Linked DNA regions of Homo sapiens: region 1 is linked to region 2. Evidence: fine-mapped expression QTL. Tissue or cell type: whole blood. Region 2 holds a variant in brackets; the other region holds the start of a gene. All regions are shown on one strand. Distances are from middle to middle.

Region 1 (8,000 bases), 24 kb after region 2:
TAGTGGATCCTGCACTGGGGCTGCAGATGGAGCTGCCTGCCAGTCCCCCGCCGTGAACCCGCACTCCTCAGCCCTTGGGTGGTTGATGGGACTGGGCGCCGTGGAGCAGGGGGCTGCGCTCATCGGGGAGGCTCCGGCCGCACAGGAGCCCATGGAGGGGGTGGGAGTCTCAGGCATGGCGGGCTGCAGGTCCCGAGCCCTGCCCCACGGGGAGGCAGCTAAGGCCTGGTGAGAAATCAAGCACAGCGCTGGTGGGCTGGCACTGCTGGGGGATCCAGTACACCCTCCGCAGCCGCTGGCCCGGGTGCTAAGTCTCTCATTGCTCGGGGCCGGCAGGGCCGGCTGGCTGCTCCGAGTGCAGGCCCGCCAAGCCCACGCCCACCCTGCACTCCAGCTGGAACCGCCCGCAGCCCAGGTTCCCGCTCGCGCCTCTCCCTCCACACCTCCCTGCAAGCTGAGGGAGCCGGCTCCGGCCTTGGCCAGCCCAGAAAGGGGCTCCTACAGTGCAGCGGCGGGCTGAAAGGCTTCTCAAGTGCTGCCAAAGTGGGAGCCCAGGCAGAGGAGGCACCGAGAGCAAGCAAGGTCTGTGAGGACTGCCAGCACGCTGTCACCTCTCAATGCCACTGCACTCCAGCCTGGGTGACAGAGTGAGAATCCGTCTCAAAAAGAAAAAAAAAAGAAAAAATGTAACTATGTGAAGTGATGGATATGGTAATAACTTGACTGTGGCGATTACTTCACAGTATATACATATATCATAACATCATGTTGTGCACCTTAAGTATACCCAATTTAAAAAAAATTAAGGTAGAATATAAATATATAATTTATCATCTTCACCATTTTAAAATGTACAGCTCAGTGGCAATAAATACTTTTTTATACTCAATTTTTATTTGTTGGTTGTACCTCACTAAAGCTGAAAAATATATTTGAATAAATGTTAAAGAAATGTAAGTATACACAAACAAGAAAATAAGTATGTAGAAATTGCAATCTTTCCTGAAAATAAGCCAAAAGAATAAAACTCGTATTTAAATTCTTTGAAAAAAAATTAGCAGATGGAACATTTTCTTACATTTGTACAAATGTACTCAAAAATTTTATTTTAAATCAATTTTAATGAGTTATCTCCCATAAATTTCTTACATAGAAAGATTAAGTTGTCCAAAGGCACATCTTATAATATGTTTTGAGAGAATTTTCTGGTTTTGGCAAAAGGGGATCTGCGAATGTGACTGGGGCAGCCTCAGGAAAACATAAGAGGGGGAATTTCTTTTTAAAAGAGACCTCTGGCCACAGACACTAAGTATTTTTAGTAAAAAATGTGGTTAGGCACTGATGGAATATTTTTTTTTTTTTTTTTTTTGAGACGGAGTCTTTCTCTGTTGCCCAGGCTGGAGTGCAGTGGCACAATCTTGGCTCACTGCAACCTCTGCCTCCCAGGTTCAAGCGATTCTCTTGCCTCAGCTTCTCGAATAGCTGGGACCATAGGCACGTGCCACCACGCCCTGCTAATTTTTTTGTATTTTTAGTAGAGAGGGGTTTCACCGTGTTAGCCAGGATGGTCTCGATCTCCTGACCTCCTGATCTGCCTGCCTCGGCCTCCCAAAGTGCTGGGATTACAGGAGTGAGCCACTGTGCCTGGCCCACTGATGGAATTTTGTAAAGCAGGAAGGAAATAATTGTACCATATAATGTTACAAAAATTAAAATTAATATATATTTTTTCTTTGGAATTTATCTTCTGGATAATTTTAATTTAGAAGGAATTTCATTATTTTGTTAATGATTATGGGGTTGCTGTCAGACATTATTTCTACTTTGCTCAGTAATTTGCAGTTATCTGTGAGTTCTGTAGCCTCAAAATTAAAAACTAGGGTGTGGTTATCTTTACTTACATAAAAGTGCAATTTTTTGTGGAATAACAACATTGTTTTATTCTCTAAATATACTTTGCTTTATTTTACTTTGCAAATGATTTTAAAATTCTCCCTCTTTTTTTTTTTTTTGAAACAGAGTCACACTCTCCTGCCCAGGATGTAGTACAGTGGCACAATCTCAGTTCCCTGCAATCTCCACCTCCTAGGCTCAAGCAATTCTCCTGCCTCAGCCTCCTGAGTAGCTGGAATTACAGGCACACATCATGGCACCTGGCTAATTTTTACTTTTTTTGGTAGAGACAGGGTTTCGCCATGTTGGCAAGGCTGGTCTCGAATTCGCCTGCCTTGGCTTCCCAAAGTGCTGGGATTACGGGTGTGAGCCACCGTGCCTGGCCTGATTCAAAAATTCTAATGGCCGGGGCACGGTTGCTCACGCCTGTAATCTCAGCACTTTGGGAGGCCGAGGCGGGTGGATCACGAGGTCAGGAGATCGAGACCGTCTTGGTCAACATGAAGAAACCCTGTCTCTACTAAAAATACAAAAAATAGATGGTCATGGTGGCTCTTGCCTGTAATCCCAGCTGCTCAGGAGGCTGAGGCAGGAGAGTCGTTTGAACCAGGGATTCGGGGGTTGCAATGAGCCGAGATCCTGTGGCTGCACTGCAGCCTGGGCAACAGAGCAAGACAGCAAGACTCCGTCTCAGGAAAAAACAAAACAAAACAAAAATTCTAAGGAATACAGTTACTTGTAGTATTGATGTTTGGCATAGGTCATTCCAATCTTTTTATTATGTATTATTGTTTTTGTAGGTTATTATATATTCTCTTGAATATTTATCTTTGTTTACTGTTCATAATTTTATTATGAAACCAATTTTGGATTTACATAGCGATTTATAGATAGATTTACATAGCAACTTATAGCTTTGAATGTATTTGTAGAAAAGAAAGAGTATTGAAAATAAATGTAGACATTCTACTCAGGAAACAAGGAAACTTTTTTTAATCTTTCTTTAACCTTAGAATTTAGAAATGATAATAAGATGAAACTAGGTTTGGACCTTTTTCTTTTGTTTTTTTGTTTGCAGTTTTTTTTTCTTTTTTTAATTATTTTTATTTATTTATTTATTTTTTATTATTATACTTTAAGTTCTAGGGTACATGTGCACAACGTGAAGGTTTGTTACATATGTATACATGTGTCGTGTTGGTGTGCTGCACCCATTAACTCGTCATTTACATTAGGTATATCTCTTAATGCTATCCCTCCCCCCTCCCCCCACCCCACAACAGGCCCCGGTGTGTGATGTTCCTCTTCCTGTGTCCATGTGTTCTCATTGTTCAATTCCCACCTATGAGTGAGAACATGCGGTGTTTGGTTTTTTGTCCTTGTGATAGTTTGCTGAGAATGATGGTTTCCAGCTTCATCCATGTCCCTACAAAGGACATGAACTCATCATTTTTTATGGCTGCATAGTATTTCATGGTGTATATGTGCCACATTTTCTTAATCCAGTCTATCATTGTTGGACATTTGGGTTGGTTCCAAGTCTTTGTTATTGTGAATAGTGCCACAATAAACATACGTGTGCATGTGTCTTTATAGCAACATGATTTATAATCCTTTGTGTATATACCCAGTAATGGGATGGCTGGGTCAAATGGTATTTCTAGTTCTAGATCCCTGAGGAATCGCCACCCTGACTTCCACAATGGTTGAACTAGTTTACAGTCCCACCAACAGTGTAAAAGTGTTCCTATTTCTCCACATCCTCTCCAGCACCTCTCCAGCACAGAAAGAGTATTGAAAATAAATGTAGATATTCTACTCAGGAAACAAGGAAACTTTTTATCTTTCTTTTAACTTAGAATTTAGAAATGATAATAAGATGAAACTAGGTTTGGACCTTTTTCAATAATTCTGACCACCGTTCAGTAAATTTACTGTATAAGAAAAGTAGAGGTTTGGGGTTGAATTTTGTTTTATTTTTTCCCAAAGATGTCTATCTCTGATATCTTAGGGCCTGGCAATTGTTTTTGGTCATAGGTGGGCTCTGAATAAATGTCAGTTGAACAAATATATAAAAACCAAACAAAGGAATGTTATTTCAACTGCCTTCAGAGTGTCACAACAAATATCAATGAAAAAGAAACAAAAATAAAGACTCAATTAATTCTCCAGTGAACACTTCAGTCCTCTAAAGGTACTTCCCTGTGTCCACCCAAACTGCTCTCTAACCGAACGCAAGCAAGGGGACTCCAATGCTCTCAGGCCATGAACTAATGAGGAGCTTCATGCCTGCCCTCAGTCTTTCTTCATACCCAGGGCAAAGCTGGCCCACAGACTTCCAGACATGCTTTCTTCGTTTGGGTAGAGATGGGGATCCAAGTCCCCTATGTATTTCCTCCAGAGCCACCTGTAAAACATGGGTGAAATCTACCTGCCCTCTAGCTCACCACTTCCAGGTCAAGCCCACTCATGGACCACTTTAACAGTGACAGTTGGCTTGACTGGGGAAACTGAAAAAAAGGAGCTTTCTTTAGATTTTCTGATAATCTGCATTGCCATTGCTGCTCCTTTTTCAGCAGCACAGAGAGTTGGATTATGGAGGGTTGCCTGCTTATTATGCAGCTACATCCAGGATGCTGAGTGTCTTCTGATCATGATCAAGAGCAGAGTGAAGAGATACAGGCGGAGGAGAGGATCACAGAGAGGTAGAAGTGGGAGACTGGTGGATAGGTCACTAGGCACCACTGAGTGACTACCATCACTTCTCACAGATTAGATTATTGACAAGCCAAGTATGGATTTGATTTCTACAAGGCCAAAAGCTACTCCATCTTCTAGCCAGACCACAGACTTTGTTTTAAGCCAGGACTCGTTTTCCAGCAGTTAGTGCAATTAGGGAGGTTGGGAGGATGTACACAAGAGCAGGGAGAAAATCTGGAGCCAGACAGTGAGAGAGGCAGAGGGGAAATGAAAAACCCCGTGGGAGGCTGCAGCAAAGCGAGGCAGTGTGGCTTCTCTGACAGGGAAGTCAGCAGAGGGAGAGGTTTGTCTGTCTGTACAGCAAGGGAAGTCAGACGAGAGTGCAAGAGGGTGTGGAGAGGGGTACTGATATCTGAATTATTAGGGCAGGTGTCCTGCCAAGGAATCCCTCCTTTAACAGAGCTTCAATGCTGCTCCTGTTCCTCCTCTTCGAGGGTCTCTGCTGTCCTGGGGAAAATACAGCAGGTAAGAAGAGTGCAGGTGGAAAGATACCTATGGTAGGGCACCAGAGGGCTGAGAGGAAGCTCTGGGGAGGTCCTGGGGGAAGGGAGCAGTACTCTTCTAGGATGCCCTTGGAATATGCCTTTCAGGCTAGTTCCAGGCAGAGAATTCTTGCTCTCAGTCTCAGTTTTTGTCTCTGATTTTGGAGAAAGGAAGCTGGCCCCACAGGAAAAGGGTATTGGAGTATGTACAAGCTACCTAACTGTCTCTCATCTCTGGGTTCCTTTTTTCCCTTTGGCATCACTTTTCCCATCCCTTTACATTCTCTCTACTTGTCATTTCCCTCTCTCTCAGCTCCCCAGGCTCTACAATCCTATCATCTAGCAGCAGAGGAGCAGCTGTCCTTCCGCATGCTCCAAACTTCCTCCTTTGCCAACCACAGCTGGGCACACAGTGAGGGCTCAGGATGGCTGGGTGACCTGCAGACTCATGGCTGGGACACTGTCTTGGGCACCATCCGCTTTCTGAAGCCCTGGTCCCATGGAAACTTCAGCAAGCAGGAGCTGAAAAACTTACAGTCACTGTTCCAGTTATACTTCCATAGTTTTATCCAGATAGTGCAAGCTTCTGCTGGTCAATTTCAGCTTGAATGTAAGTTCGTTGCTCTAAGCTGATAATTTGCCTGGGAACACCAACTATTTTCCAAAGTGGAAGATAGTATATAGACTCTGACCATCATTTAACCTTACTAACCTTGTTCCCCACTCTCTGACTCCCACTCCCTCCTCTGCTTCACCCTTCACCACCACCCACACTCCACCATATACACAAAAGGGCCTGCATGTACATATCTCAACATGAATATAGCTTCATGTCTGGCTCTTTGGAATGATTGTCTCCTCTGGATCTTCTGCCCCTCATTCCTGCCCTCAGACTCAGCCTTTCTCAACCCTCTTTCTGCCCTTCTTTATCCTTTGCCTGAGTGTTGACATGGACTGGCCTGTACCTAACCACTTTCACGTGAATTATTTATGACCAATCTCCTATCTTCCTGATAGCCTTCCCATCTACCACTTTCCCATTAGTTATTTCAAAGTATCTTTATTATCTTCAAATTTTCTTCCCACAAATTTTCTTCCCCTTTGCCAGTAAACTCTAGTCTCCATATGATTTCCCAGCAAATTTTTCTTCCCTTGAATCTCTTTACTGTCTAAATTGTTTGTTTTTCTTCCTTGTCATTCTTTCCATAATGATCTCTCTTCCCTGTCCACTCTCAGACCCCTTCGAGATCCAGATATTAGCTGGCTGTAGAATGAATGCCCCACAAATCTTCTTAAATATGGCATATCAAGGGTCAGATTTCCTGAGTTTCCAAGGAATTTCCTGGGAGCCATCTCCAGGAGCAGGGATCCGGGCCCAGAACATCTGTAAAGTGCTCAATCGCTACCTAGATATTAAGGAAATACTGCAAAGCCTTCTTGGTCACACCTGCCCTCGATTTCTAGCGGGGCTCATGGAAGCAGGGGAGTCAGAACTGAAACGGAAAGGTGAGCCCAACTCTCTCTCTCCCCTCTTGTTCCTAGTACTATAACTCTCATATTTGAATTTGCCTCTCATCATCATTTTGAAAGACATAGTGAGAGACTAGAGAATGAGATGTGTGGGTTCAGGACTGTTTCTTAGACAAGAGAAAGAAGTGATTACTAAATCACTCTTAGTATTATTACAAAGGCACCTGAGTCTCTGAGCTCTGGCCTGGGGTGCCCTTCAAAATTCCATTTTTTTTCTATCTTCTTCTTCCTAGTGAAGCCAGAGGCCTGGCTGTCCTGTGGCCCCAGTCCTGGCCCTGGCCGTCTGCAGCTTGTGTGCCATGTCTCAGGATTCTACCCAAAGCCCGTGTGGGTGATGTGGATGCGGGGTGAGCAGGAGCAGCGGGGCACTCAGCGAGGGGACGTCCTGCCTAATGCTGACGAGACATGGTATCTCCGAGCAACCCTGGATGTGGCGGCTGGGGAGGCAGCTGGCCTGTCCTGTCGGGTGAAACACAGCAGTCTAGGGGGCCATGATCTAATCATCCATTGGGGTGAGAAACAGCTGAGGCTCTGCTGGGAAATAATGAAAATAGCCCTGGGGCTTTTGAGTGTGGGGCTGAGGAAATGGGTAGGAATGCTAGGTACAAGAAGGGTAAAACTGGGACAATCAAAATAAAGAAGGATAGAGTATGACAGTAGTTAAATTTTAAGAAAATGGAAGTAGAGAATTAGACATACTAACAGAAAAAGGAGGAGGAACTAGTGATTTAGTGGGAGAGGGTTGGGAGGAGATCACAGACAAAGGATCAGGAGGAATTGAAATGAGGGCTTTGGAAAACCCAGATGAAAATTCTAGGAAGGTCCCACCCTTGTGAAATGGGAAATCTCAGCTTGGTGGAATAGAGTATTTTAGGGTTGGTATTCTTATTCTATCCCCAACCAGGTGGATATTCCATCTTTCTCATCCTGATCTGTTTGACTGTGATAGTTACCCTGGTCATATTGGTTGTAGTTGACTCACGGTTAAAAAAACAGAGGTGAGCTTTTTCTTGTTCTTTGTTTCTTCAGCCTGTAATCAATTCATTCCTTTTTCCTCTATCTTCTTTTTTTTTTTCTCTGCCTTTCCCCTTTATTTCCTTTCTTTGAGATTAATATCCTCCTCTTTTCCCACAGTTCAAATAAGAACATTCTTTCTCCCCACACACCCAGCCCTGTCTTTCTCATGGGAGCCAACACTCAGGACACCAAGAATTCAAGACATCAGTTCTGCTTGGCACAAGTATCGTGGATCAAAAACAGAGTATTGAAGAAGTGGAAGACACGCCTAAACCAACTCTGGTGACATTTGCTTTACCTTATACATAAAATCCTTGT
Region 2 (8,356 bases):
GATTAGATGAATACATAATTACATTGATTCATCGGAAACCAAGATTTTCCGTGTGGGAGAAAAGAGAAGTAGAAGTGAGACTGATGAGTTAAACACATAGTTTTGAATTTGAAGTGAAAGTGTAAATATGAGCTTGTGATGATATTTATCCTCAAAAAAATTTCCACAGGCTAATTTTTTTTTAGGTTTTCCCCCTTAGAAGGCCTAGAAACTAGGATTAACCCAGTAATTTCCGTATCACATTTTTTCCAACTAACAAGGACCAGAGATCCTTGCTAATTTCTAGTGTAGGGCAAGAAGTTTCGGCAAGAACCTTGAGCAACTTTGCCACATCAGGAAGTAATACAGTCTTGATGACAGAGGTGTATTGATGGAGCTCAGGAAGAATTGACTTGAAAAGAATCTCATTGTCACAGATAGGACAATTTGAGCTTCAATAAAACAACTACTATGATAGATACAAGCATTTCAAATAAGCTGAAATTCATGAGTATACAATTATGCAAAAAAATATTGATCACTTGTGGAGAATGCCATATAAAGCATTCATTCTCTTGAGAACGGGCAAATAAATAGAAAGAATAACTATCTTATTACCTTGATTCCATCAAGGTAATAAGATAGTTACTGAAGATAATGTCTCTTTAGGAATATTCTAAGTAATAAGTGAAGAATGTTTAATATATTTTTCTTTCACCCCTAGGCCATTCATTCATAAGATATGACCCAGGGCACTTTGAGGTCCCTGACTCCTTTTCTGAGGGTCCATAGTTCCCAATAAATCCTAACAATACTACCAGGTTAAATTTTTAATTCTATTCTTCTCATGATTTTATGTTGTTCTCCAGAGACTACATGGAATATGATATTGCATCAGATTGGATGCCAAAGCAGATATGAAAATGTAGCTGTTTTCTTATTAAGCCAGACATTAAAGAGAATTGCCAAAATACTAAATAAATAAATAAATAGATGCAGCTGTAAAGCCACGCTTCTCACTACATTTTTGAAAAACATTTAAAAATAAAGATGTAATTTTTGTTGATATGTAATCCATGTTTAATTGTAGAGAAGTTTATAAATATTTTAATTATTAGTTTATTAGTTTTTACTTCTAAGATATATCTAGCTATCTGTCTGGACATACATTTTATACACACACACACACACACACACACGCACACACACAATTTCCATCACACAGAGAAAAGCTTTTCTGGTGATCTCAATCTTTTTTTATTGTGGTAAAATACACATATATAAGATTTACCATTTTGCCATTTTTAAGTGTACAATTCTGTGTTATTAAGTACATTCACACTGTTGTGCCACCTTCAATATAACTTGTACATATGTAAAATGTGTAAGAGTTGAGACCTATTAATCTAGTAATGAATGAAGACCATTAAGCATTATATGCCTCTTGTGAGATATACATAGTATAATAAAACCTGAATCTGAGCACATCACAAATCTATTTATTTATTTTTTATTTTTTCTTGAGACGGAGTCTTGCTCTGTTGCCCAAGCTGGAGTGCAGTGGCGCGATCTCGGCTCACTGCAAGCTCCGCCTCCCGGGTTCATGCCATTCTCCTGCCTCAGCCTCCCTGAGTAGCTGGGACTACAGGTGCCCACCATCATGCCCGGCTAATTTTTTTTGTAGTTTTAGTAGAGATGGGGTTTCACCGTGTTAGCCAGGATGGTCTCAATCAACTGACCTCGTGATCCGCCCGCCTCGGCCTCCCAAAGTGCTGGGATTACAGGCGTGAGCCACCATGCCCGGCCCACAAATCTATTTATATATAGTAAATAAAGAGAACAAAGGGGCATGTTAAATGACATTATAGCTATGTAATCAGCAAAATCCAAACTGTGGATGATTTTACAAGAAGAATGATGAAATTTCTTAAAAAACAAATTCTAGGATAAAAATGAGAGAAGAATCCTACAGATTAAAAACGGTTTATGAAACATCAACTAATTTTAATGCATGAATCTTATTTTTATTCCAATTTAATGAATAAACTGTAAAAACAATTCATGAGACAATTGGAAAAAATTTGAATGCTGAACAACTATATATTTAATGATATTAAGAAATCTTTTATTTGGGGATGTCATAATGTAATTTCGGCTATATGTTAAAAAAGTCTATATGTTACAGAAAGACATGTTGAAATAGTTAAGGATGAAATGATACAATATCTAAAATTTATTTTAATCATGAGTTGATAATTTTTTCAAAACTGTCTAATGAGCAAAGGATAGTTTTTATACTGCTTTATGTTTGCACATATAAAATTATTATTATTATTATTATTATTTTTGGAGACAGGGTCTTGCTCTGTCACCCAGGCTGGAGTGCAGTGGCACAATCTTGGCTCACTGCAACCTCCACTTGCTGGGTTCAAGTGATTCTCCTGCCTCAGCCTTCCAAGTAGCTGGGACTACAGCCATGCACCACCATGCCCGGCTAATTTTTGTATTTTTAGTAGAGACAGATTTTTGCCATGTTGGTCAGCCTGGTCTCAAACTCCTGACCTCAGGTGATCCACCTGCCTCGGCCTCCCAAAGTGCTGGGATTACAGGCGTGAGCCACCACGCTTGGCCCCTATAAAATTATTAATTAATGGACCAGCGCTGGCTGGTCCATTTTACAGAGTGCAGATTGGTCTATTTTACAGAGCACTGATTGGTGCATTTTACAAACCTCTTGCTAGCTACAGAGCACTGATTGGTGTGTTTTTACAGAGCATTGATTGGTGCATTTTACAAAACTCTTGCTAGCTACAGAAAAGTTATAGGAGTCCCCACTCAACCCAGGGAGTGCAGCTGGCTTCACCTCTCACTATGACCCTTTAAAAGCTAGACTATAGCTGTAGTAAGCCAAGGGTGGTTTTCTCCAAAGGAGTTTGGAACAGAAATAAAGAAAACATAATATTTTTTGGCTAAGTGGAAACTATTTTAGCAAGATGAGGAGAATCTACAATATCAACTAAAAAGAAAAAAAAATGGAAGAAAGTAGATGACTCTGAAAGAAAACACTTAACTTGGCAGTTACAGCAACTCAGATAGTTTTTACTGAGAAAATGAATTTGCAGCTAAGAGATCTTGCCAGAGATCTACAAATAGGGAACACTGTCCTCAAGGAACTTACAAAGAGAAGGGGAGGAAAAACAAAAATAACTCCAATGCTGTGAGTAAAGTGTAAAGTGGATCTCTGCATAGTTCCTTTTATTATAGCACTAGGAAAGTCTTCCTGAGGAAGAAACATCTCAGCTGAGCCTTCAGGGCTAGAAATTCATCCAGGCAGAGACAGAGAAGAAATTACATCCAAAAGGCTCTGCATCTCTGCAAATACAGTGATTCTGGCATAATTATATTTGGTTTTCTTTGACAAATGATATTTAACCAGAAGCAGAAAAAGAAAAGTTTTAAATTAGGAAGCCAAAGGGAGTCACCATTAAGTCATATGTATTATATTTCATTTATTTTGAGACACATTTTTTCTAACATTTTAATGTGTGTAAAATCAGGGTGAATCACACTGTTAGTACAGTCTCATAATAAATTTACAGTTTTAAGTACTTTTTTGCTGATGTTTAAATAATAATTTATTTTAAAATACATGAAAACTCTGATTTCATCAAATTTGAAAATCATTTGAAATATGATAAGATTGACTTTTGGGCTGATATCTTGGGCTTCTTGGTACTTATTGCGAATGGGAGAGGAGACATGATGATGGCTCATGGGATATTCTGATATGACCTGTTAAAAACAGAAGAACAAAAGAGCTCCACATAAAAGATGTTTGTACACCCATGCTCATAGTAATATTATTCATGATAGTTAAAAGTGAAAGCAACCCAAGTGTCCATAGATAGACGAATGGATGAACAAAATGTGTTATACGCATATGGTGGAATATTGTTCAGTTTCAAAAAAGGAAGGAAGCCCTTTCATATGCTACAATGAGGATATTACGCTAAATGAAATAAGTCACAAAAAGACAAATATTTACAATTCCACTTATATAAGGTACCTAGAATAGTAGAATTCATAGAGACAGAATGTAGA[G/A]CTGTCCTAACCAGGGCCTGGAGAAGAGGGGAAATGGGAACTTGCAGCGTAATAGGAATAGAGTTTCAGTCTTGCAAGACAGAAGAGTTTTGAAGATTGCTTGCACAACAATGTGAACACACTTAACACCACTGAACTGTACACTTAAAAATGGTAAAGATGGTAAACCTTATGTTATGTGTATTTTAACAGAATTTTTTTTAAGTCCACATAAAACGAATGGGAGTTTGGGGAAAGGATATGGTGAAAGGATTGAGGATAAACAATTTTTAAATAGATAAAATGGTAAAAAACAGTGGAAGGGTGAACAGAAAAGACATATTAAAAAAAAAAACAACACCACCCACAACTCACCGGCGCCTCATATACCATAATGCAAGGCATAGCAAAAGGAGCAAGGAAGGCACTATTATTGCCAAAACAATTGAGCCAATGGAGGTGGGGTTTCCTGGCAATTGAGAGAGGACAAAAGGATGTCACTTCAGATACTATACACAGAATTCCTTGGCCTTCCTTTGCCCACCTACTTCCAATGTATGGTCATTTCCAACTTCCTCTCTCATATTCCTGGCCACCATATATCCATCCTTTGATCCCCTCTACCCAGTTTACAGGTCCTTAATTCCTACATTTTTGATAACTTGGATTATCTATTTTTACTCCTGTTGGGATTGGGGTCAGGGAAATCAATCAATCAATCTCTCCCTCTTTCATCTCTCAAGCTCTATCCTTCCCCAGTGCCTCCCTCTATGCCTGAAGATCACTTCCTGGCATTTCCAGCCTGGGTCCCTGCTATTTCTTACTCCAGTAGAGGATGATGTCCTGGCCCTCTAAACTGCTGTGCTTCACCCGACAGGACAGGCCAGCCGCCTCCCCATCTGCCACATCCAGGGTTGCTCGGAGATACCATGTCCAGTTAGCATTGGGCAGGATGTCCCCTAGCTGAGTGCCCTGCTGCTCCTGCTCACCCCGCATCCACATCACCCACACGGGCTTTGGGTAGAATCCTGAGACATGGCACACAAGCTGCAGACGGCCAGGTCCAGGACTGGGGCCACTGGACAGCCAGGCCTCAGGCTTCACTAAGGCAGGAAGGAGAAAAAAAAGTGTCATGTTATAACTCGAGTTCAGAGGTTATGAACTCAGAAACCTACAAGCTTGGACAGCGACCCCATTCACTCCTTTGGGAACCAAATAACTTGTTATTTAAGCTCCTATCCTTTGATATCTTCCTACTCTTGATCTTAGAGGAGGTGGTGGGAAGTGAAATAACAGCAGGACTAACCTTGTCTTTGCAGATCTGCTTTTCCTGCATTGAGGACGCCCAAGAGATATCGGGGGCAGGTTTCATAGAGGAGAATTCTCACAGTTTCCATGATACCTTGATATTGTATGATTAGTGCACAGAATTTCTGTGCCCTGCTGCCACCTTCTGGGGAAGGCACACATGAAGCATTCTTGACACTCAGGAAATCCAATCCTCCTAGAGCTCCCCTCAGGAAGCTTACTATGGCACCTCCAGAATGTAGCTCACAGCCTGCTATGCCCTGGATCTCAAAGGGGTCTATGTAGAGGGAAAAGAGAGCAAGTTATTAAACACAAATAAGAAAAAAAGGCATGAGAAAAGAACCTAGGATTTTAGATTTTGGTGGGGATAAAGTTATTTGGTGTAAAATGATGATGAGCTAAAAACTAATGATAACATTTAGACATTTTCAGAAACAAGAGCATTGAGAAAAATGTGCATGCCATGAAGACAAAGGTATGTGATAAAGGAGTACAGTGAGTATGAAAGGAGAGGTGAGGCAGAGCGTGGTGCAGTCAGGAGTGCAGCATTCCAGAGTGAGTGGAGGTTCCCAGCAAGAGGAGGGTGCGGGGAGGAGATGATTGAAAAGATGGATTAGGGGAGAAAGCCACACGTTAGATCACTCAGGCACAGGGTAGGAGAAGTAAGGGCCCTTGAGGAGAAGTTTCACATAAGACAAACCAGCAGCTGGTTACAAAGTGGAAGACAGTCTGAGAGTAAGAGAAGAGTGCAGAGGCAGCAAGAATCTGAAATATGAGGTGTGATGGTGTGAAGCTGGAGTGAGAGACTACTCAAGAAAAGCATGTGCGTGCATTTGGGTAAAATAGAAAGGAAGGGAGAAGCATCAGAGAGAGCAACACTTTGCAAAAAAGAGAGAAAAGAGAGTCCTTGAGACTCTTCCCAGTTCGGTGGACTAGACTCACATTTCATCTGGAAATCACCGGCAAAGTCTTGTACTTCTCGAGCGAATCCAAAGATGTAGACTCGGAATATCTCCTCTAACTCAGCAACCTCCTTATCACTAAAGTTACCTTTAGACCAAGGCTTCAGGAATATGGCAGTGCCTGAGTCGCTATCCCAGCCATGAATCTGCAAATCATCCAACCAGCCTGAGCCTTGAGTTTGTGCCCAGGTACTATTGGTAAAGGACGAGGTCTGGATAACATGAAAGGAGGTCGGCCCCTGGAAGGCTGTGAAGAGTGGAAAAGCAAGATGGTGAAGATAAAGAGAGAAGCAGGAGACAATTAGGAAGAATGGGAATGAAAATGATTTAGAAAACAAGAACCTAGAGTCTAAAGAACACAGGAAGTCTGACACATTTGACTGCCTTAAGGCTTCAGGTTCTAGTCCCAACCACCAGAATGGTTGAAGAGGGCGGGAGACAGAAAGACCCAGACCCTTAGTGTCCAATTGCACCTAGGAAAGCCCTGCTTGCTTTTTAAAATCCAAACCCCTGCACCAGTGCTGGGAGCTGCCAGAGTGACTCTTACCATGTTCACTGTTACCACCAGGAAAGAGAACAGCTAACAGTTGAAATGGCAGCAGCAGCATTTCACTGGGAGATGCAACTTCTTACTGGCAGAGCTGGTATTTGATCTCCAATTTCAGCAAAGCTTTTCCTCAGTACCCTGTAGTGACTTCTTCTCTCTTCCAACTGCCAAATCTCTTCCTCATCCAAACTGCTTTTCAGAGAAAAATGTGCCTCCCACAGCCCTGAGCCTCTTACCTCACCTTTTATTTCCCTCAAGCCCTGATTTTTAGAGTTTCTCTTACCCCCTGACTTCCAGCCGCTCTCCCTGTCCTCACCTTCCTTCATACCTCCTTGGAAAAGCCCCCATATGATTCTGCATTTTCATTTCTCCTTCCTTAGCCTTTATTCCCACATCTATAGGATAAGATGGTGATATTAAGCAATTGCTAAGCTTTTAGTCTGCTTTAACCCAGAAGGATGCTTTTAGTTTATCCACCTCACTTAGTTTCTCCCCCTCCCAGCTGCCTTATCTTCTCTGGCACTCTGTTACTGCCTCTTCCCAATGTTTTCAATGTCTTCTCTTTCTTATATTGCCCTCTTTGTCTGGTGTTCCTTACCCCACATTCTAAACTGGCTGTGAGTGTGTGTGTGTGTGTGTCTGTGTCTGTGTGTGTATGTGTATGTGTGTGTACCGATATTCACTTACATAAAGGCAAAGCATTTAAAACATTTCCTGTACTATAGCACTACAAACCAAAATGCCAGAATCAAATATAATAAAGACTGAAGTTTATAATTCAAACAAAATTATACTATAGCAATATTTGAGGGAAAAAATGACAATTGCTGCTAGCATGTGACCTTCTCTTCAGGAGCTCTTGGCCTATGGAGTTTTGAGTAACAAATATTCATGACATAAACAGAACTCTAGGAGCTATGCTATGTGCACCTCCAGCCTAAGTCAAAGATAACTTTTTGGGTAAGTTGCCATAAGCGGCAGAGCTTTTTTCTTCTCTTGTAATATCTCATAACTGCTGTCTACATTTGGGCATTCATATCACCACATGTGGTATTAATAATAGAGCAAAGAGGTTGCTTTTTTTTATACAAAAAGTTCAGAGATACTTGTTTTAAGATGTCACCTCCTATCTTCTTGTATGCCCATGAAAAATTTTAAGAAGAATTTTTGGATTTTCTCCATTTAGGAAAAAAATCACATATTTGCAGAGATCTATGTATCATGCAGAAATGTGGCAGCAATCGATTCCGAGTAAAGAGGGTTATCACTAACTAATTCTATTATGTGGATAAGAAAATGCAAAGTGAGTAGTGTAGTGTTCTCTATTCCTGGGGACACTACTGGTTCACAACATTAATAAGACTGGTTCACAACATTAATAAGACTAGCCTTCATCCAAGATTATTACTGCCTAATTGATAAATACAGAGCAGCTCTCCAAATTTCAATGTATGTATCTCTTAACAACATTCCCAGACTC

What was found. PIP is the estimated chance that this variant, and not a neighbour inherited with it, causes the effect.
Region 1: CD1E starts here. The variant in region 2 is the best candidate, but not a certain one, in a credible set for the expression of CD1E in whole blood (INTERVAL, PIP 0.79).

Annotation. Positions count from the first base shown.
Region 1 is chr1:158,348,929-158,356,928 of GRCh38, forward strand. It overlaps CD1E (CD1e molecule), which reads left to right and starts at 4,966. Exons shown (of 6, transcript NM_030893.4): 1 at 4,966-5,118; 2 at 5,449-5,745; 3 at 6,372-6,641; 4 at 6,899-7,177; 5 at 7,570-7,663; 6 at 7,800-8,000. The coding sequence starts at 5,061. The coding sequence ends at 7,968.
Region 2 is chr1:158,324,487-158,332,842 of GRCh38, forward strand. CD1B (CD1b molecule) reads right to left here and starts at 7,045. Exons shown (of 6, transcript NM_001764.3): 1 at 6,877-7,045; 2 at 6,310-6,576; 3 at 5,366-5,644; 4 at 4,884-5,162; 5 at 4,435-4,528; 6 at 3,469-3,771. The coding sequence starts at 6,937. The coding sequence ends at 3,750. The variant G/A (reference allele first, on the strand shown) is at 4,081.